2 linked regions of the Homo sapiens genome follow. The protein of the gene in region 1 purifies or fractionates together with the protein of each later gene. This does not show direct contact. Each region holds a gene or a part of one and is shown on either strand. Other genes may lie near its edges.

Region 1 (14,857 bases):
ATAATTTTTTCAGATATGTTATGGTTTACTAATTATCTGTTTATAATCTGCCATTCGACCTGTCCATTGAGTATTTTCATTTCAACAAATATGTGTTTAATATCTGCAAGCTTCATTTGATTATTTATCATATTTGCCTGGTCATTCCTGATGGTCTCTTTTTGCTTGCTCATTGTTGTGATTCTGTCCCTTATTTCTATTTCTTTCTAAATAGATTTTCTCTATTTCACAGCTGATAAAATTTTAATATCTGAATTTATTGGAAGTCTAAATATTTGTTATTTCTTCTAATTTTGCACTTATGGTGACTTGCTTCCTTTATGTCTGGTGATTTTTGATGGTGAACTCACATTGTCTTAATCTTAACCTGGGAATTTAGTGGGCTTAACTAGAAATTTTTTCTTGAAAAAGATTTGTGTTTGAATCTGCTAGGACCGTTGGGGCACTACCAGTCTAAATGACTTTTAGCCTTTTTGGTTTCTAGATTAGCACAGAGGTCTCAGATTCAGCTCTTCCATATTGCTGTTGATGTAAGCCTTGTTTTCTGAATACAGTTCCCTGGGGCATTTTCTCAGCTTAACCTTTTTATTCTTAAATGCCTACTATCAGAAGATCTTGTTTATTTGTGGGGAAGAGATCTGGAGAATGAGATGTCAGGAGGACACATGGAAATTTCTCCTACTTTCTTCAAGTTCAGTAATGCATAGATAAGTTTTTTTTTTTTTTCCAGAATCTGGTCGTTGTGCAGTGGAAGGGTGTCCCAGATCATCTAGCTCACAATTTTGTTGAAGAAGAAAATCCCTTTTAACTTAAAAAAAAAAAGATTTAATTTTTTAGAAGTTTTACATTTGCAGAAAAACTGAGAATATCGTAGAGAGAGTTCCCATATACCCTGCACCTAGTTTTCCCTATTATTACGATCTTACATTAATATGGTTAAATTGTTGAAATTAGTAGACCATTACTGATACATTAACTGAAGTCCATAGTTTATTCAGAATTCCTTGTATTTTACTATGTCTTTTCCTATTCTAGGGTTTGGTCCAGTATGTCACTGATATGGTTAGGCTTTGTGTTCCCACCCAAACCTCATCTTGAATTGTAATCTCCATAATCCCCACGTGTTAAGAGAGAGACGTGGTGGGAGGTGATTGAATCATGGGAGTGGTGTCCCCCATGCTGTTCTCGTGATAGTGAGTGATGTCTCATGAGATCTGATGGTTTTATAAGTGTCTGACATTTCCTCTTTCACGTACTTGCTCTCTCTCCTGCCGCCACGTAAGACATGCCTGCTTCTCCTTCCGCCATGATTGTTAAGTTTCCTGAGGCCTCCCCAGCCATGCAGAACTTTGAGTCCATTAAACCTCTTTCCTTTATAAATTACCCAGTCTCAGGTATTTTTTATAGCAGTGTGAGAACAGACTAATATAATCACTTTACAAAGCTGTTATATCTCTTTAAGCTCCTCTTGGCTGTGACAGTTTCACAGCCTTGTTTTGGTTGACCTTGACAATTTTGAGGAGTATTGGTTGGATATTTTATAGGATACCCCTTTACTAGAAATTTTTATTGTGGTCAAATATACATAAAATTTACCATGTCAACCATATTTTAATTTGGTGGCATTAAATGTAATATATTCATAAAGTTGTGCAATGATTTAATAATCTTTATCCATTTTCAGAACTTTTTCATCATCTCAAACAGAAACTCTGTACTCATGAAAAAATAACTCCCTATTTTCCTCTCTCCCTAGTCCCTGGTAAACTCTGTTTTCTGTCTCTATGAATTAACCATTTCTAGGCACCTTAAATAAGTGGAATTATGCAATGTTTGTCCTTTTGTGTCTGGCTTATTTCACTTAGCAAAATGCTTTCAAGTTTCATTCATGTAGTAGCATGTCTCAGAATTTCATTTCTTTTTAAGGCTGAATATTATTGTATTGTCCATTCTATGTATACACAAATTTTGTTTTTATCATTTTATTAGTTACAGGAGAGTTTTATTTCTTCTTTTGGATTTTCTTTTTTAAAAAAATTTTCTTTATAGACATTCATGTCATCTATACACAAAGATGGTTTATTTCTTCCTTCCTTATCTGTATACTCCTTATTCCCTTTTATTGTCTTATTGCACTAGCTAGAACTTCAGATGTAATATTAAATAATAATGATGATAAAGGACATGTTTGTGTTGTTCCTGATCTTAGGGAGAAAGCATCCAATTTCATTAAGCTGTAGATATTTTGTGGAAGTTCTTTATCAACTTGAGGATATTTCCCTGTAGTCCTAGTTTTCTGAGAGTTTGTACCTTCAGGGGTGTTGGATTTTGTCAAATGCTTTTGCTGCATGAATTTATATGATCATATAATTTTTCTTCTTTATCCTCTTGATGTGCTGAATTCATTGATTGATTTTAGAATATTGAACCATCCTTGTATACTGAGAATAAATCCCACTCCATTGTGTTGCATAATTCTTTTTAGACATTGTTGGATTATATTGGCTAAAATTTTGTTAAGGGTTTAAAAATCTATATTCATGAGGGATATCAGCTTGTAGTTTTCCTATAATGTCTTTAACTGCTCTTAGTATTAGGGTAATGCTAGAGTCATGGAATGAGTTGGGAAGTGTTCCTTCTGCCTTTATTTTCCCAAAAAAGATTATGTAGAATTGTTATTTCTTCCTTAAATGTATGTTAGAATTCACCAGAGAAACCATCTGGGACTGGTGATTTCTTTCTTGGAAGGTTATTGACTCAATGTCCTTGCCTACTCAGATTATCTATTTCTCCTTGCATGAGTTTTGGTAGTTTGTATCTTTCAAGTAATTGGTCCATTTCATCTAATTTATTAAATGTTGGGGTATAGAGTTCATAGTATTCCTTTATTATCCTTTTAATTTTCATGGGACAATTGATGACTTATTTTCCATTTCTAATGTTGGTACTGTATTGTTTATATTTTTTAATTTTCTGTATATTATGATGTTTAGACATCTTTAAAAAATCCTTTCTGGCTTGGGAGAAACTGCTTCCTCCTGGGGCAAGCCAATTCTTAGCTAAGCAAAAGGGCTTAGCCAGGGAGCATGGCTTTGATATATAAAAAACTAATATGAAGCCATACCTCTTCTGTCTGGTCCATATACAACAGGCCTTCCTCTGTCTTAGCCATTGCAGAGCTATGTACCAGATAATTAAGGACAACCTTTATACTCCGGGGCCCTCTGAAATTATTCATAGTAGCCAATCCTAATGGGTTTACTCTACCTTGCTTTTCCTGTGGAAACTCCAATAGAGGCTCTAGTCCAGGTTTTTCTCTTCCTCCTGTTTTCTGCCTCCTGACTATCCCGAGGCTTCCCCATGTAACCCTGTATGGCATGGCATGCGTCCTATTTCTAGGACCTGTGAGTATAATAAATGTTGTTTTCCTCTCATGGCCACACCTGACTGACCATCACAGAAAATAACACAGAACAGGTTACTTGGATCTTCTCTTTTTCTTGGTTAGCACAGCTATAAGTTTATTGATTTTAACTAGATTGTGGTTTCTGTGATTTTCTCTATTGTTTCCCTGTTTCAGTTCCATTGATTTATGTTCTAATGTTTATTGTTACTTTTCTTTTGCTTTAAGTTTAATATTTTTCCTTTAGCTGCCTTGAAGGTAGACATTCAGAGTTTAGATTTTTCTTCTTTTCTAATATATGCATTGAATGCTAAGCACTCCAAGCACTGCTTTCATAACATTCCACAGGTTTTGATAAGTTATATTTCAAATTTTATTTAGTTCAAAATGTTTTTTTAATTCCTCTAGATATTTACTTGATCCATGTATTATTTAGAAGTATGAATTTAATTTGCAAATATTTTGTGGGTGTCCAGCTGTTTTGTTATTGATTTTTAGTTTAGTTTTATTGTGCTCTGGGACCACAATAAAATAGTTTGTATAATTTCGGTTATAGGTTAAAGTGTGCCACCTCCCCCTCCCTACCATATATTGAAGTCCTAACCCCCAGTACCTGTGAATATGGTCTTTACAGATGTAATCACGTTAGGATGAGGTCATTAGGGTGGCCCACATCCGATATTACTGGAGTCTTCATGAAAAGCAGGAATGCCATGCAAAAGCAGAAACACACAGGGGAAATGCTACATGATTATAGAGGCAGAGAGAGGTTGTAGTGATGCAGCTGCAAGCCAAGGAATGCCAAGAAGTGACAGCCACCATAGAAGCTAGAAAGAGGCAAAGAAAGAGTCTCCCCTGCAGGTTTCAAGCAAAACATAGTCCTGGTGATACTTCTAGCCTGGTTTTGGACTTCTAGCCTCCAGACCCATGAGACAATAAATTTCTGTTGTTTTAAGCCACTCACTTGGTGGTGCTTTATTACAGCTACCCTAAACTATATAATTTATATTCTTTTAAATTTATTAAAGTGTGTTATGGCTAGAATGTGTTCTAGCTTGGTGAATGTTCCATGCGACCTTGAGAAAAATGTGTATTCTGCTGTTATTGAAATGAGTATTCTATAAATGTCAATTAGATCAAGCTAATTGATGGTGCTGTCCAGAGCAACTCTTGCTGATTTTCTGCCTGCTTAACCTGTTAATTACTGAAGGAGTAGTATTGAAGTCTCCAAATATAATGATGGATTTGTCTATTTCTCTTTGCAAGTCCTACCAGTTTTTGCCTCATGCATTTTGACACTACTGTTAGGAGGATTTACACCAGGATTGTTCTATCCCCTTGGAGAATTGACCTCTATCATTAATGCTCCTCTTTGTCCCTGATAATTTTCCTTGTTCTGATGTCATCTTTGTTTGAAATTAATATAGCGACTCCAGCTTCCTTTTGATTAGTGCTAGCATAGTGTTCCTTTCTTTATCCCTCGATGTTGTAAATAGTTTATTTTTAAGATGTTTTAACAGCTTGAGTGATTTATTTCACATATCTATATTTACCCATATAAAGTGTACTATTAATTGGCTTTTAGTGTATTCACAGAGTTGTACACCATCAACACAATTGATTTTAGAATATTTTCACTAGCGCCCCCCAAACCCTGCAACTCCTTAGCTAACCCTCCATCATCTGCCAAGCCTAGACAACTACTAATCTACTTCTGTCACTATGGATTTGCCTATTGCGGACATTTCCTACAATATGTAGTCATATTGAAATAGAATCCTATAGTATGTGATCTTTTGTGAAAGAAATTAGATAATACTTGGTCTTTTGTGAATGGCTTCTTTCACTTAGCATAATATATTCAAGGTTCATCCATATTGTGGTATACATGTACTTCATTCTTTCTCATTTCTGAATAATATTCCATTGTATGAATATACCACTTTTTATTTAATTACTAATCAGTTTATGACCATTATGGGTTTGTTTTGCATTTTGGCTGTTATGAATAATCCTGACATAAACATTTGTACATATACTTTTCATGTGGGTGTGTTTTCATTTTCCTTGGGTGTATACCTAGCAGTGGTTGCTGGATTGTTTGGTAACTCTGTGTATAAACTATTGAGGAATTGCTAGACCATTTTCCACAGTGGCTGCACAATTTTCCCATTCCCACTAACAGTTTATGAGGGTTCAAGTTTCTCTACATCCTCCTCTACACGTTATTGTCCATCCTTTTTTTTTTTTTTGAGATGGAGTCTCCCTCTGTCACCCAGGCTGGAGTGCAGTGGTGCTATCTCGGCTCACTGCAACTTCTATCTCCCAGCATTTCACCATGTTGGCCAGGCTGGTCTCAAACTCTTGACCTCTGGTGATCTGCCCGCCTCAGCATCCCAAAGTGCTGGGATTACAGGTGTGAGCCACCGCGCCTGGCTATCCATCCTTTTGATTATCGCCATTCTAGTGGGTGTCAAGTGGCATTTCATTTTGGTTTTAATTTTCATTTCCCTGAGGACAATACTGAGCATCTTTTCATGTGCTTTTTGCCTACTTGTATATGTTCTTTGGAGAAATCCCTATTTCTTTGCCCATTTTTAACTTGGGTTGTCTTTTTTAAAAATTTTTTTAAATTGTTTTTCTTTTTTTTTTTGAGACAGGGTCTCACTCTGTGACCCAGGCTAGAGTGCAGTGGTGTGACCATGGCTCTTTGCAGCCTTGATCTCCCTGGCTCAAGTGATCCTCCCACCTCAGTCTCCTAGTAGTTGGGACTACAGGCATGTACCACTGGACCCAGCTAATTTTTATTTATCTATTTCCTTTTTTTTTTTTTGTAGAGATGGAGTCTTGCTGTGTTGCCTTGGCTGGTCTGGAACTCCTGGGCTCAAGTGATCCTCCTGACTTAGCCTCCAAAGTGCTCATATTACAGGCATGAGCCACTGCACCTACCTATTTTTGAATTTTAATACTTCTTTATATAGTCCAGACACAAGTTATTTATCAGATATATAATTTGCAAGAATTTCCCCTCTTCCTGTGGTCTTGTTACTTTATTTATGGTATCTTTTGAAACTAAAGGTTTTTAGTTTTGATAATGTCTAGTTTATCTATTTTTTTTTCCTTTTTTTTGTTTTTTTCTTGAGATGGAATTTCGCTCTTGTTGACCAGGTTGGAGCGCAATGGTGCAATCTCAGCTCACCGCAACCTCTGCCTCCCAGGTTCAAGCGATTCTCCTGCTTCAGCCTCCCCAGTAGCTGGGATTACAGGCATGAGCCACCACACCCGGCTAATTTTTTTTTTTTAGGAGTGGCGGGGTTTCTCCATATTGGTCAGGCTGGTCTTGAACTCCCAACCTCAGGTGATCCACCCGCCTTGGCCTCCCAAAGTGCTTGGATTACAGGCATGAGCCTCTGTGCCCAGCCTCTTTTTTCTTTTCTTTTTTTTTTTTTTTGCTACTGCTTTTGGTGTCATATCTAAGAATCCATCAAGGATTCTCAGAATTGTAATTCAAGGTCATAAAGATTTACACCAACAGTTTCTTTGAAGAGCTTTAGAGTTTTAGCTCCTAAGTTTAGGTCTTTGATACATTTTAATTTTTGTATATGGTGTGAAGTTAAGGGTCTAATTGCATTTGGATATCCAGTTGTCTCCCCATCTGTTGAAGACAATTATTTTCCCATTGAATGGTCTTGCACCCTTTCTAAAGATCAGATGACCATACATCATATCACGGTTTATTTTTGGATGTCAATTTTATTCCAAAACAATTGAAATTGTTAACCGCTTACGTGTTTCAGGCATGATCCTAAGCACGAATTCATTTGCTTCTCATAATAACTGTGAAGTGGGCACTATTCTCACTTCCATTTGACAAATGAAGTGGCCGATATACAGAGTGATTTGCCCAAGGCCATATAACTGGTAAGTGGCAGTGCCAGGATAATAATTTAGGTTGACTAACTTGAGAGCCTGAGTCTTAGCCATGCATGCTGTAAACAAAAATTAGAAATCAAAACTTCTGAATTCCACTGAAGAGCTCACTTTAAGCAAACGGGGTGAAGGTCGGATTAGCCACTAACGGTTTGAAAAGCACAACAGGGAGGGATTGCCTCACCAGCTTGCTTTCTATAGAGTAGCGGCAAAGGACCTGCCTGTTTTGGCTGAAACTCTTTCAACCCCCACAAGTTGAGAATTTGCACTAACTAAGTCGAATTTGCAGTTAGGAAGCCTTCCTGGGTTCCTGGGACAGCGCCGAGTGCTGCGAGCAAAGGCCGAGCCCGCTGCCAGAGGCTCGCGCCGCTCGCAGCACAGAACCTGAGAGTGGGAAGGCGTAGGCGCCCGGGCGGGAGGCAACCGGGATGTGGAAACTCTCGCGGGAAGATGCGTCGTTGCCTCGGTAACCGCGTCGCAGTCGCCGAAGATGGCGGGGCGAAGTCTGTGTCTCACGGTCAGTTCAACTCCAGGCTCCTGGGGAGCGTCTGGGTTCCGGCGACTAGGACGCCTAACTTCCTTTAACTTCGGGTCTGAAAGTCTGTGGCTCTTTTACAGAGAAGCAGCGTTCCAGGGACTCCGTTCCCGCCACCCGTTCAGCAACCCTCTACACCTGGACCCGACCTCCTCGCCTTGGAGGAAGAATATAAGTAAGAAATTCGGCGGTTGAACTTTTCCTTCTTTCTTTCATCTGAATGAGGCTGCTTACAAGTACTTTTTTCTGGAGACTGGCTGGATCTTCGGGACCACTCACTCTGCAGCATTCCCTTCTCGTCATCTCGTTCACCTGCCGTTTATCCTTTCTTTGTCTTTGATCTGAGTAGTTCGCCTGCGTATTAGAAGATATTTGAAGTGGGCGAAAATTTAGCCCAAGTAAGCATGTTGTTTAATTTAAAACGTAGCCCAAGTAAACAGCAAGATACTGTTGGAAGTTATTTGGGTAGCAGGAATTGCCACGAATAGTTAGTTCACTTGATAGTTTAGGTTATTTCGCTTAATATCAAGTTCATAGAGTTTACCTTGTGTAAATTTCCTTTAGGTTGGTTTCTAAATTGAAAGGATGCTTCCCACTGCAATCAGAATTACCATTCTCGTTCAAATATTCCTTTTCTTATCTGTTCTCAGTGTAATTACAACTATCCTGACAACGGTGCTTTCATTCTTGGCCCATTCTACTCCTCATCCCCAAGTTTTCACACAGCAGCCAGTGTAATCTTTTAATTTGATCTACCATGCCTTTGCTTAAAATTCTACAGTAGTTTCCTGTTGCATTTCAAAAGCTCTGATCGATGTGGCTCCTCCTGCCTCCTCTATTTGATCTTATTCCCTCTTCCCCTTTTCCCCCTAAAACTCTCCAGCTTCACTGGCCTTTTAGTTCCAAAAACTCTTCCAGGTTTTCTTTCTATCTCAGGAAAGAGACAGTCACACACGCCTTCAACCTGTAATGTGAGTGGCCTTCCTTGACCATGCTAAGTAGGCTCCCTTGTTGGTCTTTTTCATTGTCTCAGTGATTTTTCTTTCTAATTAGCATAATTTGTTACAATAAATTCATTTGTGAATTTCCTTTTTGTCTGTCTCCACTGGACTGTAAGTTCCAAGGGCAGAGGCGATGTCTGTTTTATTTGCCATCATACATACCCTTATAAAAAAGTGCCTTTTAACAACTCCCTTCCGTTTTAATATAAAATAACTAGATTAAAATTTGGAAATAGTTGGCAGTTTGTATCAGAGGGTTAAACTAGAGTTATCGTATGATCTACATATGATCTATAAGCATATTTGAAATTAAAACTGAAAGGTACTGTGTTTAGGTGAACTATACACAGACCAATTTACCACAGCAAGTAGGAAGATAATCATATCTTCTTCTCTCTGATGAAATGGGCCGATTATCCCAGTTCAAAAGTGTACTTAAGCAAATTAATCTGTTTTCTATATATAGTTCTTTATCAGCTATGCCTCAATCAAAACGGTTATTTTCATTATCATTAACCATATAGTATTAAATACCTGGATTAGGTTTATTTGTTCAGTTATTTGAGAGTGTATTTTGCACCTGGTTCTGGTGCATCCTTAGGGATACAGTCCTGCTTAAAATGAGAAATATACAGGGACTATTATTGTATTCTAGCACGAGTTACTTTATAAAACGAGATAGCTAAACAGTATTATATGGTGGCCAGTTGTTACTTGTTCTGTTATCTGTACTCTGAGTTGTGCACATCTGAAGCATATGAACAGAGTAACTCCCTACACTACCTGAATCTTCTAGAATACTTCTGTGTCATGTAGAAGAGTAAAATGTCTGGCCATCCCTGTAAGCAAGAATATGAAATTATAACAGTATGGTATCTGTTTTGCCACCTGTTGTCTTGGCATTGATCATTAGAATGCTACTTCCCAGGGACCTCAATCCAAAACCTTTTGCAGTTCTGCTTCTGTTGGAGGAAATAATCACTGTCCGAAAGGATAGACTAAGGAAGATGCTAATCGCTCAAGTGGATAGATTTTTCAAGCTTCATTCCTGTATTATAATACCAGATAGCTAAACAATAAGATAACATAATAACTGGTAGGGCAAGCCCCCTCATAAATCGCAATTACATTGGATTTACAGATTAATTTGTAGAGAACTGACTTATTTATGCTATTGAATTTTCCACGAATATGATACTTCTCCATTTATGGGTTTTTACCTTTAATAGTGTTTTATCATTTTACTACATAAAATTCTTGCGTATATAATTTGCTTCAAGGTACTGAATAGTTGCTATATAATAAGTGGAATTTTTTCTATTTTCTAATTGGTTATAAATGTAGAATTTTTAGATGTTGATGCTACATCTGCGTTTATATACACACAGATCTTCAGTCCTGCTGAACTCTCTTATTCATTCTGTGAATTCCCTTGGATTTTTGATGAAGACAATTATATGCAAATTTTGATCATTTTGTCCCTTGATAATTCTCCTACATTCTCTCTTTTTCTCTGTTTAGGACTTCCCGTGTGATATGGAATAGAAAAAGTGATGGTGAGCTTCCTTGTTTATGATTTTGAGAAGCCCACTTTTAATAATCACTACATTTGAGGTTTGCTCTAGGGTTTTGGTAGATTCTTTTTATTATGTTTAAAATTCTTCCCCTTAATTCCTAATTTGAATGAGTGTTAAATGTATCAAAACTTATTTTTTCCCTAATTAATTCAGCTGTTGGTATGTTCTTTTTCCCTCCTTTAATGTTTTAACATACTGAACTACAAAGGCAGGTTTCTTGTTTTCCTTTAAAGACTGCTAGATTTGATTGCTATAATTTTATGTAGGTTTTTTGCATCTATGAACAAAAGTGAAATGGGTGTTGTAGTTTTTCTCTACTTCTTTTCCTTTCTGTTTTTGATATCAGTATCATTCTGTCTGTATGAAAGAAGCCGAATAGTTTTCCTTTTTTGATTCTTTTCTTGGAAGCTTTTTATAATTAGAGATTTTCTGCCCTTTGATTAAAATTGTGAAACTGTCTGAGTCTAGTGTTCTTTTATTCAAGGGGATTCTTTTTGTCTATGCATTTAGCTTCTTTAATGATTAGATGTACTATTTCTAGAATAGTTTTTGGTTATTTCTAAAATAATTTTTTGTTCTAGAAAAGTGTTCATATCATGTATGTTTTAAAATACATTAGCATAAACTGAGTCTATGGTGGTATGTTTGAAATCTTGACTGTATCCATAACCATGTACACCCCTCCTTTTGGTAGCTTTCCAATATTGTTTATTTTTGTCTTTTTCTTTTTCTATCAAGCTTCCTGGGAGATTTATCTGTTTTATTGGTCTTTTCAGAGAACCAGCTTTGGTTTTCTTGCTAATCTGTGCTATTTTAAAATTTCATTAATCTTTACAGAAATAAAGACAAATGATCTCTTCTAACTGGGGTGGATTAATTTTTTGTTTTTTAGTTTATTTACCTCATTTATTGTTTTTCTTATTTCTTAATAAATATATTTAGTCTTTAAATTTCTCTCCAACTGTAGGTTAACTATATTCCAGGACTTGTTTTGATGTATATTTCTTTTATGGTTATTTAGTTCTAAATATTATACGATTTTCATAGTAATTATTTAGAAGTGTGTTTTTTAGTTTGCAAGCACATAGGGTTGTTTGTTTACTGTTGTCTAGTTTTTATTTTTCTGAGTATGTATGTGACAAGGTCTTGCTCTGATGTCCAGGCTGGAGTGCAGTGGTGTGATTATGGCTCATTGCAGCTTCCACCTCCTGGGCTCAAGAGTTCTCCCACCCCAGCCTCCCGAGGAGCTGGGACTACAGGCGCATGGCACCATGCCATGCTAATTTTTTTTTTTTTTTGAGACAGGGTCTCACCCTGTTGCCCAGACTGGAGTGCAATGGTGTGATCTCAGCCCACTGCAACCTTCATCTCCCAGGCTCCTGAGTAGCTGGGACTACAGGCATGTGCTAACATGCCTGGCTAATTTTTGTATTATATTTTTTGTAGTGATGGGGTTTCGTCATGTTGCCCAGGCTGGTCTTTAACTCCTGGTCTCAAATGATCCACCTTCCTCGGCTTCCCAAAGTGCTGGTATTACAGGCCCAGCCTAGTTTATTTTAAATTGCATTATGATTAGAGAATTGATGTGATATTAAGTTTTTAAATGTATTGAGACTTATTTGTGGCCAAGTGCTTGTTCACTTTTTGTAAAAGTTCTATGCGTTCTTTGATAGAAAATGTATTTATTATTTGTTGGCTAATCTGTTTTATATTTGTTCTTCATGACATCGGTATCCTCACCTTTTTTCTTGTTGCAGCTTTATTGGTTTCTGTTAGAAGTGTATTAAAAATCATCAATTATAATTATAGTTTAAAAAAATTCCTTATAATGTGGCCATTTTTGTTTGGGAATATCTTGTTTGACTTATTTAAATCTTCTTGATTCATTATTATGCAGTGTCTATCTTTCTTCATCCCTTTATGTTCAAACTTTGTATGTCATTTATCAGTAAGAGCATTCTTTTTATAACCAGTCTGATAATTTCTGCCTATTAATAAGTGAATTTAATATATTTACATTATTACATAACTTGAAGTTGTCTTAGCCACCTTATTTTTTATATTTTCTATTATGTCTTGTCTTTGGTTCTTGTCTGTCTTCTGCTGGATTGAATGGGTTTTCATTATGTCTTTATTTTTAGTGATGTGGAAAGACGTTAGAATGCTTTAACTTGGTGTCCTCTGTCTTTTAAATTAGATAATATTTTACTTTGTTGTTTTGAATACACCCACACCCAGTTAATCATCAATTTTTTTATAGTCTGTACTAATTTAGATTTATCATGTTTTCAGATATCTTCATAATTCTTTTTTTCCAGATTCAATTTCCTCCTTCCTGAAGTGTAGACCCTTTATTACTTTTTGTGAAAACCTGAGTCTTAAACTCTCCAGTCTTTTTGAAAATTGTTACTTTGCATTTATTCTTCAATTACAGTTTATCTGAATGTAATTCTAGATGGCCAGCTTTTCCTTCTCAGCCCATTAAAGATATCCTTATATTGTCTGTTGGTAATATAAGGATAGAAATGTTAGAATGTCAGAAATGTTAATGAGCCATCTGCTGTCAGCTTTTTAGATAATTATGCTGGTAGACTATTTTTCTCTGTTGTTTTGAAATAATGATTTGGTAGTTTAGGGAGTACTCTCTTTAAAATTCTGTATTTTCACTGTGATGTATACACAGGTGGATTTGTTTTCTTTATTCTTCATGAGATCCATGTCTTCAGTTTGGGAAATTCTCAGCATTAGCTCTTGAAATACTGTCATTCTCTCCTCTTGGGATTTCTTTTTTTCTCTTTTGGAGACAGAGCCTTGCTCTGTTGCCCAGGCTGGAGTGGCAGTGGCACGATCTTGGCTCACTGCAACCTCCGCCTCCCAGGTTCAAGCGATTCTCATTCCTCAGCCTCCCCAGTAGCTGAGATTACAGGCATGCAGCACCACACCTGGCTAATTTTTGTATTTTTAGTAGAGCCGGGGTTTCGCTATGTTGGCCAGGCTGGTCTCCTGGCCTCAAGTGATCCTCCCTCCACCTCCCACTGTGCTGGGATTACAGATGTGAGCCACTGCACCCAGGCCTCTCTGGGATTTCTTTTATAACTTCTGTTAAGTAGGAACATAACATCTGTCTTCAATGGATGTTAACCTGTCTTTTGTGTTTTTATCCCCTTGTTTTCTGTATCTCCTTGTAGGTGATTTATTTATATCTGTCTTCTAATTCACTCATTCCTTCTATGCCCATTATGCTGTTCAACATATCTGTCAAATTTCCTTGAGTTCTTAATTTCAGTGACTGTGTTTTTCATTTATGTAATTTATATTTGGATCTTTTTCAAATTCAGCATTCTTTTATGATAAAATCTGGCTCTTGCCTAATGTTTTTCTAAGTGCATTTTTTTTTTCCAAATTAATGCTAATTTTAAAATCTTTTTTTAATTGTTATATTATCTCTTGTTCTTATAGTATAAATTTTCCCTTTCCTCACATCTGCTGATTCTCTCTTTCAGTGGCTTGTTTCTTTATGCAATTTGTTACCTTTCTGAAGTCATCTTTAGCAGTTTGCTTTTTGAGAGAGTCCTATATATTCTAGATGAGTAAATGTTCCTATAGGGTGGTTTTCAATTTACCTTTACTAGTTTCGAGTTTTGATTGATTCCACGTCAGCTTTCTTCTATTTTAAAGTTTTTCCATGGTGTCCTTGTATCACCTAGATAAGATGAATTTGGACTTCCCTCTTGTTTGTTTTAATTACTCACAAGAGAATCTTTTCTACCTGTGGTTCTAGTTTCATTTCTGCTCACCTAAGGTTGTGGGTAGAATTTTTGTAGTCTGTGTTTCACAGGTGTATCCCTTCATGACTCACATACATCAGCTTCTAGCTTTTAAGCTATTTTGGCTTCTGTTCCTGTTTGTTGCTCTCACTTTGAATTGCTGCTTTATTCTTAGTACCAGGGCATTTCCCTTGCCTGAGTTTGAGCTTAGCAATATTTCCTCCATTACATTTTATCTGGCATTTCCATGGATTTAGAGTAGCATAGTCTTCTCAGTCATCTTGGTCCACTATATTAATTGGAAACTTAATCCTTGTGATTAAGTCCTTGTTAGGGAAATTTGAAAAATCAGGTAATGGCACTTTAAAGGCACCTTTAAGTCTTTCTTAGATATTTTTCTTTTGACCAGGTAATCCTAAGATATAAAAATATTTCTTAAAGCTTCAGACTGTTAAAGGATATGGTACTAATCTCCCCCCCTTTTTTTTTCCCTGGGGGTGGAGATGGTGTTTTGTGTTACTTCTGAATCCCATGTCTAAGAAAAACAAGATATCTAATTTTTAAAATCCTTAACATGTCTCCTTCACAAAACCTCAGAAGATCCTAGGTGGTCTAGAAATGTGACATCTCAACAGGAGAAAAAA
Region 2 (15,072 bases), on another chromosome or scaffold:
CTGTATGAGGCTTAAATGTGGTTATAGGTACGAAGTTCTTGGCACATAGTAGGCCCTCATGCAGCTCTCACCATTTTGGTTATTTGAAATATGTCCACTTCAACCCTCTATGAGCTCAGGCCAGGCAGGAACCACACTTGTTTTTTTTTCTGCCTGCACTGCCTGGCACACAGAAGGGGACTGACTTGTAAGGGCTGACCTATCAATTTTCCTGGGCTGGGCAGACCCAGGCTCCCCTCCCCTCCCTGCCTGGGTGAGGCTGGGGTAGGCCCGAGGGCCCTACACCTGCTCCCTGAGACTGACCCAGCAGGCTGCTGGGTGCCAGCATCCAGCATCAATAAATTACTGGTGAGTTCAGGTGACGGGACAGATCCAGTGTCAGCTTCCTTTGTGTCCTGCAGAGAGGCTCAGGCCCTGGGATCCCCCTTCACAGGCCTCCCCCAACAAGGGCTCCATCAAAATGACAGAGTTGCCCACCTACTGTGTGCCAGGCCCCACCTAGGCACTTTGCACCGTATTTGATTGACGCTTCACAAAGATTCTGCAAAGCAGGCACTAGCTCCGTTTTACAGATGAGGAAACCGAGGCTTAATGAAGGGAAGTGACTTGCCAAAGACAAAATGAATATAAGCAAAAAAGGCCCCTGCCTCTCCAATTCAGCAGAAATCTTCCTGGATCTCATTGCAGTGTATAGTCAAAATACACACACACACACACACACACACACACACACACACACACACACACACTCTCTCTCTCTCTCTCTCTCTCTCAGGGATTTTCATTCATTCATTTATTCAGTAAACACATATGGGACACCTACTACGTGTCAGGTATTGTTCTGGATGTTGGAGATACTGCAGTGAACAGGACAGAGCTCTGCCCTCTAGGAATGTACATTCCAGTAGGTGAGATGAACAGAGACAGGAAACAAATACATATGTATTATAAAGGAAGGTGGCACTGAGTCCATGAGGATGAATCAAGTAAGGAACGGGAATGGAGGGCCACTGGGGGACTTTTAAGAAGGGCAGTCAAGGAAGGCTCCTCAGGGGAGGTGACATTTGAATGAAATCCCTCGACAAATTAGTTCTCTTATCTCTTTATGCTTTAGTTTCTGGAAAAAAGGGGATGCTGGACTCGAGCGGGTCTCAAACTCTGCAAGGTGGACAGAATTTTTTCCCACTCAGTCGTAATTCCACAGGCAGTGTGGCGCGGGCCACTGCAGGAGTAGAGACACTTTTCTCCTCCCCTCCACTTTGCCCAGTGCTCCATCTTCTGGTCCAAAGGACCCTTAGGGCACTTAGAGTGGGACTTCTCGAAGGTGCTGATCTGGGCGCCCCGCTCCCCTGCCATGTGTTCTCATGGCAACTTTTTTTTTCTGAGACAGAGTCTCACTCTGTTGCCCAGGTTGGAGTGAAGTGGTATGATCTCGGATCACTGCAACCTCTGCCCGCTGGGTTCAAGCAATTCTCCTGCCTCAGCCTGCGGAGTAGCTGGGATTACCGGTGCCCACCACCACACCTGGCTAATTTTTGTATTTTTAGTGGGCGGGGGCGGGTTTCACCATATGGGCCAGGCTGGTCTCGAACTCCTGACCTCAGGTGATCTGCCCACCTTGGCCTCTCAAAATGTTGGGATTACAGGCGTGAGCCACCACACCCAGCCTCATGGCAACTTTTTGTTTTTAATTCTAAACCCATTTGTTATGATTTTTTTTTTCTTTTTTGAGACAGTCTCACTTTGTCTCCCAGGCTGGAGTGCAGTGGCACAATCATAGCTCACTGTAGCCTCTACCTCCAGGGCTCAGGCAATCCTTCCACCTCAGCCTCCCAAGTAGCTGGGACTACAGGTGCACACCACCACCGCTGGCTAATTTTTTTGTACTTTTTTGTAGACACGGGGTTTGGACATTTTGTCCAGGCTGGTCTTGAATTCCTGGGCTCAAGCAATCCACCCACCTTGGTCTCCCAAAGTGCTGGGATTACAGGGGTGAGCCACTGTGCCTGGCCTGTCATGATCTTTTGAAAGTCAGCTAGTCCCTGAGCTTCATGGGTCAGGTCCCTCTTGTTTATTACTGTATTCCAAACACCAAGCATGGTGGCTGACATACAGAAGATGCCCAAATAAACGTCTGAATGATGGATGGGCATAATGACAATAGGAGCTAGCATTTGTTGAGTGCTTATTCTCACGACAGCCCTGTGAGTTAGGGATAATTATTAATATTCCCATTTTATCGGCATTGAACACTGAGGCTTAGAGAGATTAAGGGACTCAGTCACTCAACAGCAGAGCCTGTTAGGAGAAGCACAATAAATGCTGATGGATGGATTGATTATGGAGGAAGCATAGTAGCATGGTGGAAAATGCTGTAGACTTCAGTCTAGCACCTGCTTTTTGAGGATAAGCCCATTCATTCATTCATTCATTCATTTGGTTGGTTGGTTGCTTATTTATCCATTTATTCAATAACGTTTAAGCCTTAGCTCCTGTGCTGGGCACTGGTCGACACAGGTAATGAGGCCATCGTGAAATGCTGTGGTCAGAGCTGGGAGGGGGAAAGCCCAAGGCTCTATGAGTGACCAGAGAAAGCCCCTGACCCAACCTGAGAGGTCAGGAGGCCTTTCTAGAGAGGTGGGCGTACAGCAGCGGCTCAGCATGGCTGGCAGACTGCAGGGGGATGCTATAGAATAGGGGGATGGCAGGTGGTGGCACAAGCCCTTGATAGAAGGGGCACCAGCACCCAGTGGTGGTAACTACCTCTCCCCAAGGCTCTGGGGCCTCTCTGCTCTTCCTGGCCCTTGCGTGGACAGGCCTCTGTGGGAGCCTGAGTCACTCTGCCCCACCCCAGGCCTGGAACTTCCTGTGGCACAGTCAGGGCCACCTCACTGTCAAGTTGCAGGCATCCCCGCTCATCTGGGCCCAGGGTCAGAGCTCAGTGAAAGGCAGGTGATCTGGGCCAAATCAGGCAAAGGCCAGGTACCTGGTTCTGTCCTGCGGCCCTGAGCCTCTTTGCTCCTGTGGGACTCAGTTTACCCATCTATCAGAGGCAGGGTTTGGACTGTATACTCTGAGAACCCTTCATCACCAAGCTCTTGTGACCCATTACATTACTATCTGTATTCAGAGTGGACGTGAGCCCTGGGGGCTTGGACTCCCTGTGCTTCAACTCCAGTCTCCCTTGGACACCTGGACGAAGTGTGGAAAAAAAAAAAAATCCAGAGGCCGGGCATGGTGGCTCATGCCTGTAATCCCAGCACTTTGGGAGTCCAAGGCGGGAGAATCACTTGAGCCCAGGAGTGATTACGTTACTATCTGTATTCAGAGAGGACGTGAGCCCTGGGGGCTTGGACTCCCTGTGCTTCAACTCCAGTCTCCCTTGGACACCTGGACGAAGTGTGGAAAAAAAAAAAAAAATCCAGAGGCCGGGCATAGTGGCTCATGCCTGTAATCCCAGCACTTTGGGAGCCCAAGGCGGGAGAATCACTTGAGTCCAGCCTGGGCAACAAAGAGAGACTCTGTCTCTACAAAAAATAATTAAAAAAAAAATAGCTGCGTGTGGTGGTGCATGCCTGTGGTCCCAGCTACTGAGGAGGCTGAGGTGGGAGGATCACTTGAGCCTGGGAGGTAGAGACTCCAGTGAGCAGCAATTGCACCACAGCACTCAGCCTGGGAGACAGAGCGAGACCCTGTCTCAAAATTTTTAAAAATGCAGAGGATCTCCTGGCCTTTGATTCATGGGGCAGCCTACTTTTTCCTTTGGCAGGTGTCTGGAATGGAAATCAAAAAAGAGCAGCTGCCCCCTGGGACCGTGATTGCATCCCCCCAGGAGTTGGGCATTGTGGGAGACTTACCCCACACCCCACCCAGCATGCCCCTCCTAAAGGACCCCAGTGACACGGATAGGCTGAAGACCCAGGGTCTGTTTCTGCAAAAGTGGGGATGGGCCGCAGTAGGCTGTTCTCACTCCTTGGCTGTTCCACTCTCCCAGGAGCCCTTGGGGCAAGAGGCTGGGACGTGCCTGGTGCAGTGAGCTGTCACACAGTAGGGACACCTCCAGGCCTCTGACCTCCAAGACCACAGACCTCTGGACCCCTGCAGCTGCCCTCCTCTCCTCACTTCTTCTCTACCCCACAGTCCTGCTCGTTTAAAACTCGCCAGTAGCTCCCATAGCAGCTGGAATGCCATCCAAAGTATTTCCCAGGGTCTTCAAGACTCCTGCCCTCCAACCCCTCCTCCCTCACTTCAGTCTCACCACACTGGACACCTTCCAGCTTCTAGAAAATGCCAATCTCCTTCCACCTTGGGGCTTTTGCCCTTGCTCTTCCCTCATCCTGGAATGCAGGAACAGCATGCCTTGGCACCTGTCATTTAAGTCACTGCTCAGATGCTACCTCCTTAGAGGGGCCTTCCCTGATCCCCCTAAGAAAAGCAGCCCCTTCTTTGCATTATTTGCTATCACAGCTCTCTCTTTCCTTCGTGGCCCATTCCCCGGGCTGTTGTGATCAATAGCTGGTTTGTTCAATAGCCATCTTCCATACCCATTGGTGCACTCCCGTAGGGCAGGGACCTTGGGGATCCCATGACCATATCCCAAGCCCCTGCTGCACAATGGCTGCTAAACAAATGTTTGTTGAATGAATGAAGCACAAAAAGTGCCAACAATGCCTGTCTTCCTCCTTGAATACTTCGAGGCCCCATGAGGGAGAAAATGGCACTTACTGGGCACCCGTCACAGCTCAGGCACTCTCATCCTGTTGAATCTCTACATCTGTGACATCCTGTCCCGCTATACAGATGATGAAGTAGGGGCTCAGTGACCTGCCTGAGGTTACCCAGCAAAGGGTGGAATGATGGCTTCATTCCATTGTGAAGTAGCCAAGTGGGACCTGTGAGCATGAAGAATGCCACGCCAAATAATCATCAGGATTCACTTCCAAATCTGACTCCACCCGAAGCCCATGTTCTTTTCATTATACTATACATTCTGCTGTGCCAGAACTCAGCCCAAGATTGACAACCAGGTTTTTAGCTTCTGAAAGGCAGGCAAAGACCCAGCCTGGGTGGAGAGGTGGTCCGGCTTAGTGGTTATTGAAGTGGGTCCTGGAACTGGACAGAGAGACCAGGGCTCACACAAGGACCCCACCACCCAGGCACAGGGCATATTTGCCACAGTTATCATTACCATTGCCAGGCTAGAGCATCTCTGCTCTCAGGAAGAGTGTGCTGGAAGGATAACCGTCAAGGGACACATGGAAAAAGTCAGGGTCTGAGCTTCTTAATCACAGAAGCCCCTGCGCCCCTGGGGCTGGCCTTTGGGTAGTGCCTTCCCCGCTCTGAGTGGTCACCTCTTAAAAACGGGCATGCATACCAGCATAGATCCAAAAAGAGCTCTTGAGAAGATAAAGAGGAAAAATGACTGTGGAGTTGTTGGTGTATATAAAGTAACATGAAATGTAAATTATCTAAAAATAATCTCCCATGTGAAATGCAGAGAGAGGTTGGGGCTTGGGAGACCTCTAGGGTTCTTTCAGCATTTACTGGCACCTACTGTGTGCCAGGTGTTGTGCTAGGGCCTGTGCATATGAGGATGGGTCAGATATGGCCCTGAGCATCTGGAGCTCCCTGTCTACTGGGGGAAGTGAGCCAGGTATACACAGCGTGGGGCTCTCTCCGAGCGCGGTGAAAGGGGAAGAGTTTGTGTGTGATATGGCAGCAGCAGCCAGATGCACATGAGCTGAAACCCACCCCTCCTTCCTGCATGACCTTGAGCAGGTCAGGCCACCTCTCCAAGCCCCAGGTCTTCGTCTGTAAAATGGAGCCATTCCCTCTGCCTCTCAGAGTTGCCAGGACATGGCACGTAGTAGGTCCTGGGGTGGGGGACTTTGGGATGGGAGTAGACAGTAGTTCCTACGCAGGAAACGGTCCTGCACTAGACAAAGTCTGGGCCTCAGGACTTGGATGGTGACTTGCCTGCAGGAGTGTCATGGGGACATGGGGTGGACCCCCGGGGACAGCTGGGAGAGAAGTGCAGCAATTCCTCATGACCTGTTAAGGAAGTGGGGGGTAGGGGCACAGAAATCCTGGGGAATTGGCCTGTGCCTTTATTTATGTTGGTAATTTCATTAAGGGGGAGGGGACCAGCTAGCTCTACCCAAGGTCAGATCTGCCCAGGTAGGAGGGGGGCGGTGGGGCTACCTGAGTTTACTCAGCAAGAGATTCTAGGTCAAGGCGCACTCAGGAAGGCAGGGTGTCTCAGGATGAGTTTGTGGATGTGTTGAGAGTTTTCTGAAGCGGAGGTGGGATTGGGCTGAGGCCACAGGCGACTTCCCAGGGGGCCTGGGCCTGTCCCAGAGCAGTGGGGCAGGCAAGCAGAGGCAAAGCTGGCCAAACTTCGGGGAATTCAGGGTGAGGCAAAAGGAGAGGAAGTTTGGGGGCCCCGAAGGGCGGCGATGTGGGGTTCCCCCAGGGGAACACTGCTCTTCTGGCTTCGGCTCACGGGAGAGGTCAAGTCACTTGCGGGAGCGAGGGAGGGGGAGCCTGCCCTACACCTTCCCGGCCTGGCTAAGTGGGGCGGGGCGGCCGGGAGGTCGGCGTCTGGGCTGGGGTCTGCGCCCTACTCCCCGCGGGACCGCCGCGTCCGGGAGGAGCGGGGCCTGCGAAGCTCCGGGCCCGGCCCGGCCAGACGGAACGCGGTTCCTGGGCTGGGCACTGCGCGCCTGTGGTTCCTGCCCTCCCGGCGGCTGCGGGCGCGGCTGCCCCCGCGCCCCCAGGGGCCGGGCCGGGCGGGGGCTGGGCCCGGCGGGCGGGCGCAGGAGGAAGGGGGGGGCGGGCGGCGGCGAAGGCTGCGCCGCTCTAACAGGTGGGATCCCGCGGCGTGGTGGAGGCGGGCGCGGGAGGAGGAGGAGGAGGAGGAGGAAGAGCCGCGGCAGCGGGAGCCTGAGCAAGAGCAGGATGAGCCGCGCAAGCTGACAGCCACTGCTGCCGCCCGCGCCCAGGCTCGGTCTCGCTCCCAGCGCTCGGGGCCGCTCCCCGCCTCCCGCCTCCCCCGGCCGCCCGCGGGGCGGCCCGCCCCCTCTGCACCTCCGGGCCCGGAGCTGCCTCCATCGCTCCTGCATCCCGGCCGGGGGGAGGAGGAGGCGGAGCAGGAGGCGAGCCGGAGCCGCCGCCGCCAACGCCGCCGCCGCCGCCCGAGCAGGACAGAGCGCGCCGCAGCCCCGCGCGTCCGGCCGCCGCCCGCGCCCATCCAGCAGCCTCGCCGGAGCCACACCGCGGGACAGACGCGGCCGCGGCGCGTCCCGGCCCGGTCCAGCCCAGCCCAGCCCAGTCCCGGCACCGGGCGGCCCGGCGGCCGGCCCGCCCCCGAGGGCGCCGGGCGCGGCGGGAGGATGCCGAAGCCGACGCTGCTGCTGCGCGGGGGCTGGGAGCGCGAGCGCAGCCCCGGGGACTCGGAGCTGGGCCGCCAGTTCCGGGACTGGTGCTTGCGCACCTACGGCGACTCGGCCAAAACCAAGACGGTGACACGCAGCAAATACCAGCGGATCGCCGAGGTCCTGCAGGGCGGCGGCGGGACTGGCGCGGGCAGCGGCCCCGCAGCCGGCGAGAAAGGCAAGTTCCAGTTCTGGGTGCGCTCCAAGGGCTTCCGCCTGGGCAGCGGCCGGGAACCCAAGATGGGCCAAGTGGTGTATGTGCCGGTCAAGACGGGCTCGGTGAGTGCGCGCGCGGCGGCCGCGGGCGGGTCCCGCCGCGGGGCTTGGGGCAGGCGGGCGGGGGCGGGGTGGGGGTGTGGATGTGTGTCCGAACGTGTGTCCCTGAGGTTGTCCGTGTGTCGGGCCCGCCGGAGGCGCACGCGTCCCTGCTCACCGGCCCTTCCCGGCTCGCCTGGGCAGCGCTCCGGGTTCGGGGCGTCCCTGCCCCCCTCCGCGCCGCTGCCCGGGCCGTGGCCGTGCCGGGCAGGCTGTCCCGGGCTGCTCACCCCAGCATGTTCCGTCCTCTTGTCCCCTCCCCCCGCCAGCAGGCGGCTGCTCTGGAGCCCGAGCCTCCCCCCGCCCGCCCCGGGGCTGCCTGTCCCGGGCGCCTCGCGCTCCCGCCCCCGGGCCGGCTGGGCGGTGTGTGTGTGTGTGTGTGTGTGTGTGTGTGTGTGTGCGCGCGCGGAGGGTGGTGCCGCGGGGTGGGGGGGGGGGAGGGAGGCAGGGGCAGCCGCGGGACGGGGAGTCCGCCGGGCCTCCCAGCGCCAGGGGAGGGGGCCCGCCCGGGCACTGTCGCCCCGACCCCACCCGGGGCTGGCCCGGGGAGGGGCGGCCGGAGCCGCAGCCTGGCGCAGGAGCAGCCTCCCGCGGGTGGGTGGGGCGCCCCCTCAGCCCCCCGGGCCCCTCGTTCCCCCTTCATGGGACGGGGGAGGCCTGACCTATCCATCCCCTCCCCTCCCCCGTCCCCCGGGCCGGCCCGGTCCGGGCGGGGTGGCGTGGGGGAGGGGGCGGGGAACCGCAGCCGCCTAAAGGGAGGAGGCGGGCGGCCGGGCGGGGGCGTCCCCTCTGGCCCGGGGCGCCCTGGAGAGGGCGTGCGGCGCGGGCCCCGCGGCTCCCCCGCCGGGACCTCATTGTTCTGCAGAGGGTGGGGGCTGGGGGGGGGGCGGCCGCTCCCGGGGCGCTGCTGAGCTTTGAACTTTCCGTCGCCGAGACCCTCCATTAGTGCGTTCCGCCCCCGGCCCGGTCGGGCCGCGCCGGCCTCCCCCCGCCCTCCTTGCTCCCTCCCCGGCCGGAGCGCGAGAGCCGGGCCGCCCCGCGCCGGCCTCCCTCCCTCCCCCGCTCCCCCGCTCCCCCCTCCGCGCTCCTCCCCCGGCCGGCCCGCCCGCCCCGCGCTCAGCCCCGTCCCCGGCCGGAGCGGGCTCTTCACACACAATTGATTCGGTCGTTACGAAAAGTGCACTTGTCCCCTCCCCCTCCCCCTCCGCGGCCGCCCGGGCCGGGCCCGCGGGGTGAGGGGGCCGCGAGGGAGGGAGGCGGGAGCCGGGGAGCAGATCCGGAGGCGCCTCCCCCCGCGCCCAGGGGACGGGGCTGCAGGCCGCGGGGAGTGGGAGCCGCGAGCGCGGAGGGCGGGCGGCCCATCTGCGAGGAGCGCTGATAACCGCGCTGCGGCCGCCAGCAGCCCATCTGCGCCGCTGCCGCCTCCGGCCGGACCGGGAACAGGGGGCCGGGCAGAGGGGCGCGCCGGGACCGGGCTCCCCGAGGGGGAAGCTGGGGCAGTGACCCAGCCCGCGCAAGGCTGGGACCCTCCCAGCCTAAATCAGCACTCTCGCTCAAACCCGGCGAGTCTGGGTCATTGTCCCCTCCCCCGATCGAGTCCAGGACCCCTCCCCCAGCCCAAATCAGTGCCACTTTCCCAGATGGGGAGTATGGGTCAGCCCTCCCCACCCTGCCAGGTCGGTCCCCTCCTCGGTTCTCCCATCTTGGGTCACTGCCCCCCGCCGGAGGGCGGTTTTTCTGAGGTCAGTGACCCACGAGATGGTTGGCTGGGTCTTGCCCCCTACCCTAGGTCAGTGCCCTCTGCCATCAGGGCTTCCCGGGTCGGTGCCCCACCCCACCCCCCCATCCTGGTTACACCTCCCTGAAGAGCTGGAAGCCTTGGCCCAACCTTCTTAGTCTGAGGCAGGAGCCCTGAGTCCACCCTCTCCTGGAGTTGGGGGGTGACCCCCCAGACCTGGCAGCTGGCTCACTGGCTTTCTGTGTGGCTCGACTTCTCCCTAGGGAGTGGGCATCTGGAGCAGTCGTCCACTCTTTATCCACACAGCTGTAGAGGCTGAGCACCCCCTCCCCCTATCCAGGCCACATGCAGAAACTGGGTGCTGGGCCTGGACCCCAGGTCCTGCCGGCCCAGCTGCTGGCTTCAGATGCTCCTTGAGACCCACGCTGACCCGCTCTGCCTGCCCCTGGCAGCGCGACCGTCCCCAGTCTCCACCCTGGCTCTCAGACCAATAATGAGCCCTCCCCAAGGGACCACCTGCCTGGGAGGCAGAGAAAGGGGACCCAGGCCTCCCAGTCCAGGCTGCCAGGAGATCGACAAACACAACAGACGTGCCCTCCCTCGACAGCCCGCCCCTCGGGCTCCCCACGCCCGCCTGCCTGGCCTGCTGGTCCCGAGAGCCCGTCAGTTACCTGCCACTCGCCCAGCCAGCCGGAGCCAGGCAGGAGATGCCACCCCCATCTCCAAGTTCTTTCCTGGGGCCCAGTTATTATTTTTATATTTCCATTTTCCTTTTCACTGATCCAAGAGGAACAAATCCTGCTGGGAATTCTGGGGCAGCCATTGGCCTCTTCCTGGGAGGGGCTGAATGGGACCTCCTTTGAAAGGTGCAAAGGACGTCTCCCTGGCCTACACACACACACACACACACCCCCTCACCCCTGGTGTCATTTGGGAGAGAGCCTGTAGTTTGGTCCTCGGTGGGTTTTTGTGAAGGTCATTGGGCCATAAACCTTTGTCAAAAGCATTTGTTTAGTACCCACAGTCCTTGTGCGGGCACTGGGGTGCTCGGGTGGGTGGGGCTGTGTGCCTGCTCCCAGGTCACCCAGCTGTCGGGGGTGGTGGGCATAGCTGAGGACAGGATAAAGAAGCCCATGGGGGCTTCAAGAGAGAGCAGGTAGAAAGATTCCAAGGAAGAAGGGAGGTGGGAGTTGGGTCATCCAGCAGACAGGCCCCATATAGCCTCTGTCCCCAGGGTGGCCATGGTGTGTCACCTCTCTTCCCCATTGCTCTCTGGCTGCCCCCACCCTGGGCCTCCCTTCCTCCTCCCACAGCCATATGCGGTGCTGTGGTCAGGGCCCTCTCCTAGTCCCGGCCAGCCTCGGGTCGATGATCTGACACCACTTGTCCTGTCCCATCTGGCCCTGAGCTTTTCTGGGTGTGTGTGACAAAGGCTTAATCTGTCCGGACGGGCCCAGGGCAGAGAGAGGGCGAGGGGAATTACACTCCACAGGGCCTCCTGCAGCTGGGGCCCAAGTGGGGGTGGGGCAGGGCGGGGGTCGAGGAGAAGCCTGGGCGTGGGGGAGAGGCAAGTTGGCCTCCAGTTTGCAGGTTGTCACAGGAAGTAGAAGGTGGAAGCAGGGTATGGAGGAGAGGAGGGCGGAGTCCTCCACGGGCAGCTAGGGGTGCTGGTGGGGATAAGATCTCTTTATGACAAGAGCCAGCTGGGGGCCTCCTGGCCGGGTGAAGCCTGGTGAGGATTTATTATTTCTTACGTTTGGCCTGCTCCAGGCCTGTGGGCTGCCAAGCGGGGGAAGCAAACCCCTTGGAGACAAGACCCTCCAATTCCGTTCCGGCATTGGCCACAAAGTAAAACAACCCCTTTCCTTTTCCTCTGGCCTCTCTGAGTGGAGCGCGTGGAGCCGTCCCCAGAGCCTGCGAGGGCCACAGGTTACGGCTGAGGTGGGGCCCTGGGCTGTCTGTCAGTTCCTAGGATCAGAGAGCCCCAAGTCTCCGTGGAGAGATAGAGGTTCTCAGCCCAACTGTACCATCTTCCAGATGGGAAAACTGAGGCCTAGAGAGAGGAAGTTTCCATTTGTTGAGAGCCAGGACTGGAACAGGGTTCTCTGTGCACTGCTGTAGCTTCTCCGTGGACCTGCCACATGCCAGGAATCCCACCGTTAGAGCCCCATTCCCCAAGGGAAACTTCGAGATTGCCAAACTCCACTCTCAAAACCAGGCTTTTGCAAGCTGGACCCCAGGTGTTCCACTACCCAAATTGACTAATGGTGGTCTTTTCCCAGTTTGCAACAACGTTCATTTAGTGGAAAGCATTTTGAGGCCTAAGTCTTTCTCCCCAGAGCTTTTGTGTAAACCTTTGGCACCTGCGGCCGCTGGTCTGGGCGGGAAATGGCCTCTGACTTAGCACCGCGTAATATGTGCTGTGACCTTTGGTTGAGTCCCTCAATATTTCCTGGTTTTCTCTGAATTATCAGTATAGCGGCTGTTTCGGGGGTCACCTACTGTGTGCCTGTCACTGGGCTGAGGCGCTGATACGCATCAGCTTGTGGAATTCTCACAGCAGCCTAGAGGCCAGTGCTGTGATTACTGCTACCTTCACATGAGTAAACTGAGGCTTAGGGAGGTTCAGAACTTCCCCTAGTCCACACCAATGCCAGGGCCTTGCATACATCTCCATTCTGACTTTGAAGGGTCTTGCAACCTGATCCAATTTGAAAGCACAGGTCCTTCATGTCAAGCTTTCAGTCCATTACACTTTAGTCTGAATTAGTTTCAAAGCATCCCTCTGGTCAAGAGGTCTGTATTCACAGGCTGCTGCCTGAGGCAGGACTGGCACAACATAAAGTCTGTGGGCTTTCCTAGGGCTCATGAAGATGGGTGTGGGGTGGGGAGGAGGGAGGATGCCTCTGTTGTCCTGGGTCCTGGGGGGGCTTTTGGAAGAAGGTTGACAGTGATGCCTGGCACAGGCTCCATTTGCATTTTTTGTGAGTGGCAGAGCGTGCGTTTTTGTCAGTTACACGTTGTGATTTGGGTGGCATGGTCCTGGGTAACTCTGGGGGGCTGCATTTCGGTGCCAGGGTGATGCAGACAGGTCAGGCTCTGCCTTCCTGGGGCCTCCCCTCTAAGTCCTGGGTCACTGTCTGCTGAGGGGTGGGGACACCGTGCACCCTTCTTCCCTGGGTAGGAGCTGGTAGGAAAACCCTCTGCTTTATGGCCCCTGCAGGCTGCTTTGTCGTCCCTGCACGTCTGGGAGGCTGGAAGGCCCATCTGGGACCTCAGAAATGCTGCTGGGAGGATTGGGGGGTGGGGAGCCTGTGGCTGGGGGTGTCTGGGGACCAAGTGGAGGGCCTCAGGCATACCTGGGCTTCTTCAAGCCAGATCTTAGCTCAGAGGTTGTGCGACTGAATCCTGAACATGTGTGTGCTCACGGGCTAGAACACGCATGTGCGTGCATGTGTGTGTGTGTAAAAGTGCAACTGTGTGGGTGTGAGTGTGCTGTTCCTATCTATGTGCAGGCTGGAAATGCTTGTGTGTGTGTGCGTGGAGTGTGTGCAGGGCACAGGTGGAGAGGCTCCTCTGCGTGTTTGTCGGCATCTATGTGAGCACCTGGGCTGTGGGCCTTGGCAGCTGCGGGTGTGACTGCGTGTGCTTGCACTCATGTGAGATCTGGATTGGACTCACCCTGTCTGTCTGCCAGTGTGGTGCTGTTGGGATGTCCTCCATCATCACCAAGTCACCTGAGCTGCTGCCCTGGCCCCTGCCATCCCCGGAGTCTCAGCAGCTGGCTGAAGCCAAGAGGTGGCCATAAGAGGTGGTGCCATACCCCCGTCCCCATGACTGCAGCCAAGGCATCTCCTTGTTCCAGCTTCCCACTGCCACCCCCTACCCGCCTCTTGCTATGGTCCTATAACAAAGCCCAAAGCCAAGCATGGGGCGGGAAGGTCCTGGGAGAAAAGGCTCTGAACTTGAAGTGAGGGGGCCAGGGCCTATGGGGTCCTAACTCAACTGTTTAATTCCCACATGACCACGGGCAAGTAGCCTGCCTGGCCTCTCTCAGTCTCAGTTTCCTTTTCTGGAAAATGGGCTCTAAAACTCCACTTCTTGGCAAACTGGAAAAGGCTCTGCTGTCATTTGAGGATGGTGGCTAAGGAATGTGCTTGAGGCCACCCTGCTCACTCATGTCAAAGCCAGGCCTACCAGCCTGGGGACATGGTGAGACCCCGTCTGTATGCAAAATTTTAAAAAACTCAGGCATGTTGGCACGCACCCGTAGTCCCAGCTACTCAGAAGGCTGAGGCAGGAGGATCACTTCAGCTCAGGAGTTAGAGGCTGCAGTGAGCTGTGATCATGCCACTGCACTCCAGCCTGGGTGACAGAGGGAGACTCTGTCTCAAAAAAAACAGAGAACGAGGCTAGGCCCATGGGCCCCAAAGCAGGTAAAGAAGCAGCTGGAAGTTGGTGACAGCACCCACCAGGGCCAGTGGCTTATTAGAACAAGAACTCTTGAGTCCACTTTGATGTAGAGAACAGGTAAAGGGCCTGGGCTTTAATGCTACAGGACCCTGGGTTCAAATCCCATCTCTGCCCTTTTATCAGTTTGGCCTTAATTTTCCTTCCTTCCCTCCCTCCCTCCCTCCCTCCCTCCCTCCCTCCCTCCTTCCTTCCTTCCTTCCTTCCTTCCTTCCTTTCTCTCTTTCTTTTTTGACGCAATATTGGCTTACTGCAACCTCCGCCTCCCATGGCCTTAATTTTCTCATCAGTAAAATGGAACTGTAATCATATTCCTCTTCTAGGAGTGATGTGGAAATTAATGCTTTCATGCACGTAGGGCCCCCAAATGTAGCAAATCTTAGGAAATGTTAGCTGCTATGTGATCTCACTGAGCCTCAATATTCCTCATCTGGAAAATGGGAATGGTGATGAAGGATGTTGTGAATATTAAATGGTACAGTGGAGACGAGGCACCCAGCCAAGTCCCCGGCATAGAGTAGGTAGGCAGCAACTATGAGTTCCCTAGAGGTTGTATCTGAGTCATTTCTGTGTCTCCAGTACTATCAGGGGCCTGAGAAATGTTGCATTGAATTGAACAGAGAAGGCTTTTTCTTTTCTTTTTTTTGAGACAGATTATCGCTTTGTTGCCCAGGCTGGTCTTAAACTCCTGAGCTCAAGTGATCCTCCTGCCTCAGCCTCCCAAGTAGTTGGGCTTACAGGCAGTGGGCACTGCACCTGGCACCAGAAGTCATGGTGAGGGATGGAGATGTGGCATGAGCCCCCAGAGCTGGGAACTTGCAGACTCAGGGTCTCTTGCTGCCCTGACTGGTTCCTGCCCTGCAGTGAGCCTCATTATGTTTAGTTATGACATACAGAAGGCTCCAGTGATCTCCCTGCCTCTGAATTCTTCCCAGGTGTCAGATCCCAGAGGTCAAGGAAGGGCGCTGGAGGGCTTTCCCAAGGCCTGGCAGGCACCTGCTGAGAAGAGGGACAAGCCTCTCGCCCTTCTCCTGTATGGACGCCACCCCCGCCCGGCCCCCTGGCTGGGAACCTGAGTTCCTGGGGTCTGGATTTGTGAGGAGAACACACAATGGC

The links.
Region 2: the proteins of TEX9 (region 1) and NOL4L purify together in Homo sapiens (affinity purification with mass spectrometry; 3 studies listed by BioGRID and IntAct, with this or other methods). This does not show direct contact.

Annotation. Positions count from the first base shown.
Region 1 is NC_000015.10:56,357,628-56,372,484, forward strand, and holds the start of TEX9 (testis-expressed protein 9), read left to right. Parts: upstream 1-7,798; 5' UTR 7,799-7,823; coding exon 7,824-7,850; intron 7,851-7,951; coding exon 7,952-8,043; exon of another isoform or gene 8,044-8,266; intron 8,267-10,380; exon of another isoform or gene 10,381-10,425; intron 10,426-14,857.
Region 2 is NC_000020.11:32,577,210-32,592,281, reverse strand, and holds the start of NOL4L (nucleolar protein 4-like), read left to right. Parts: upstream 1-6,948; 5' UTR 6,949-7,391; coding exon 7,392-7,712; intron 7,713-15,072.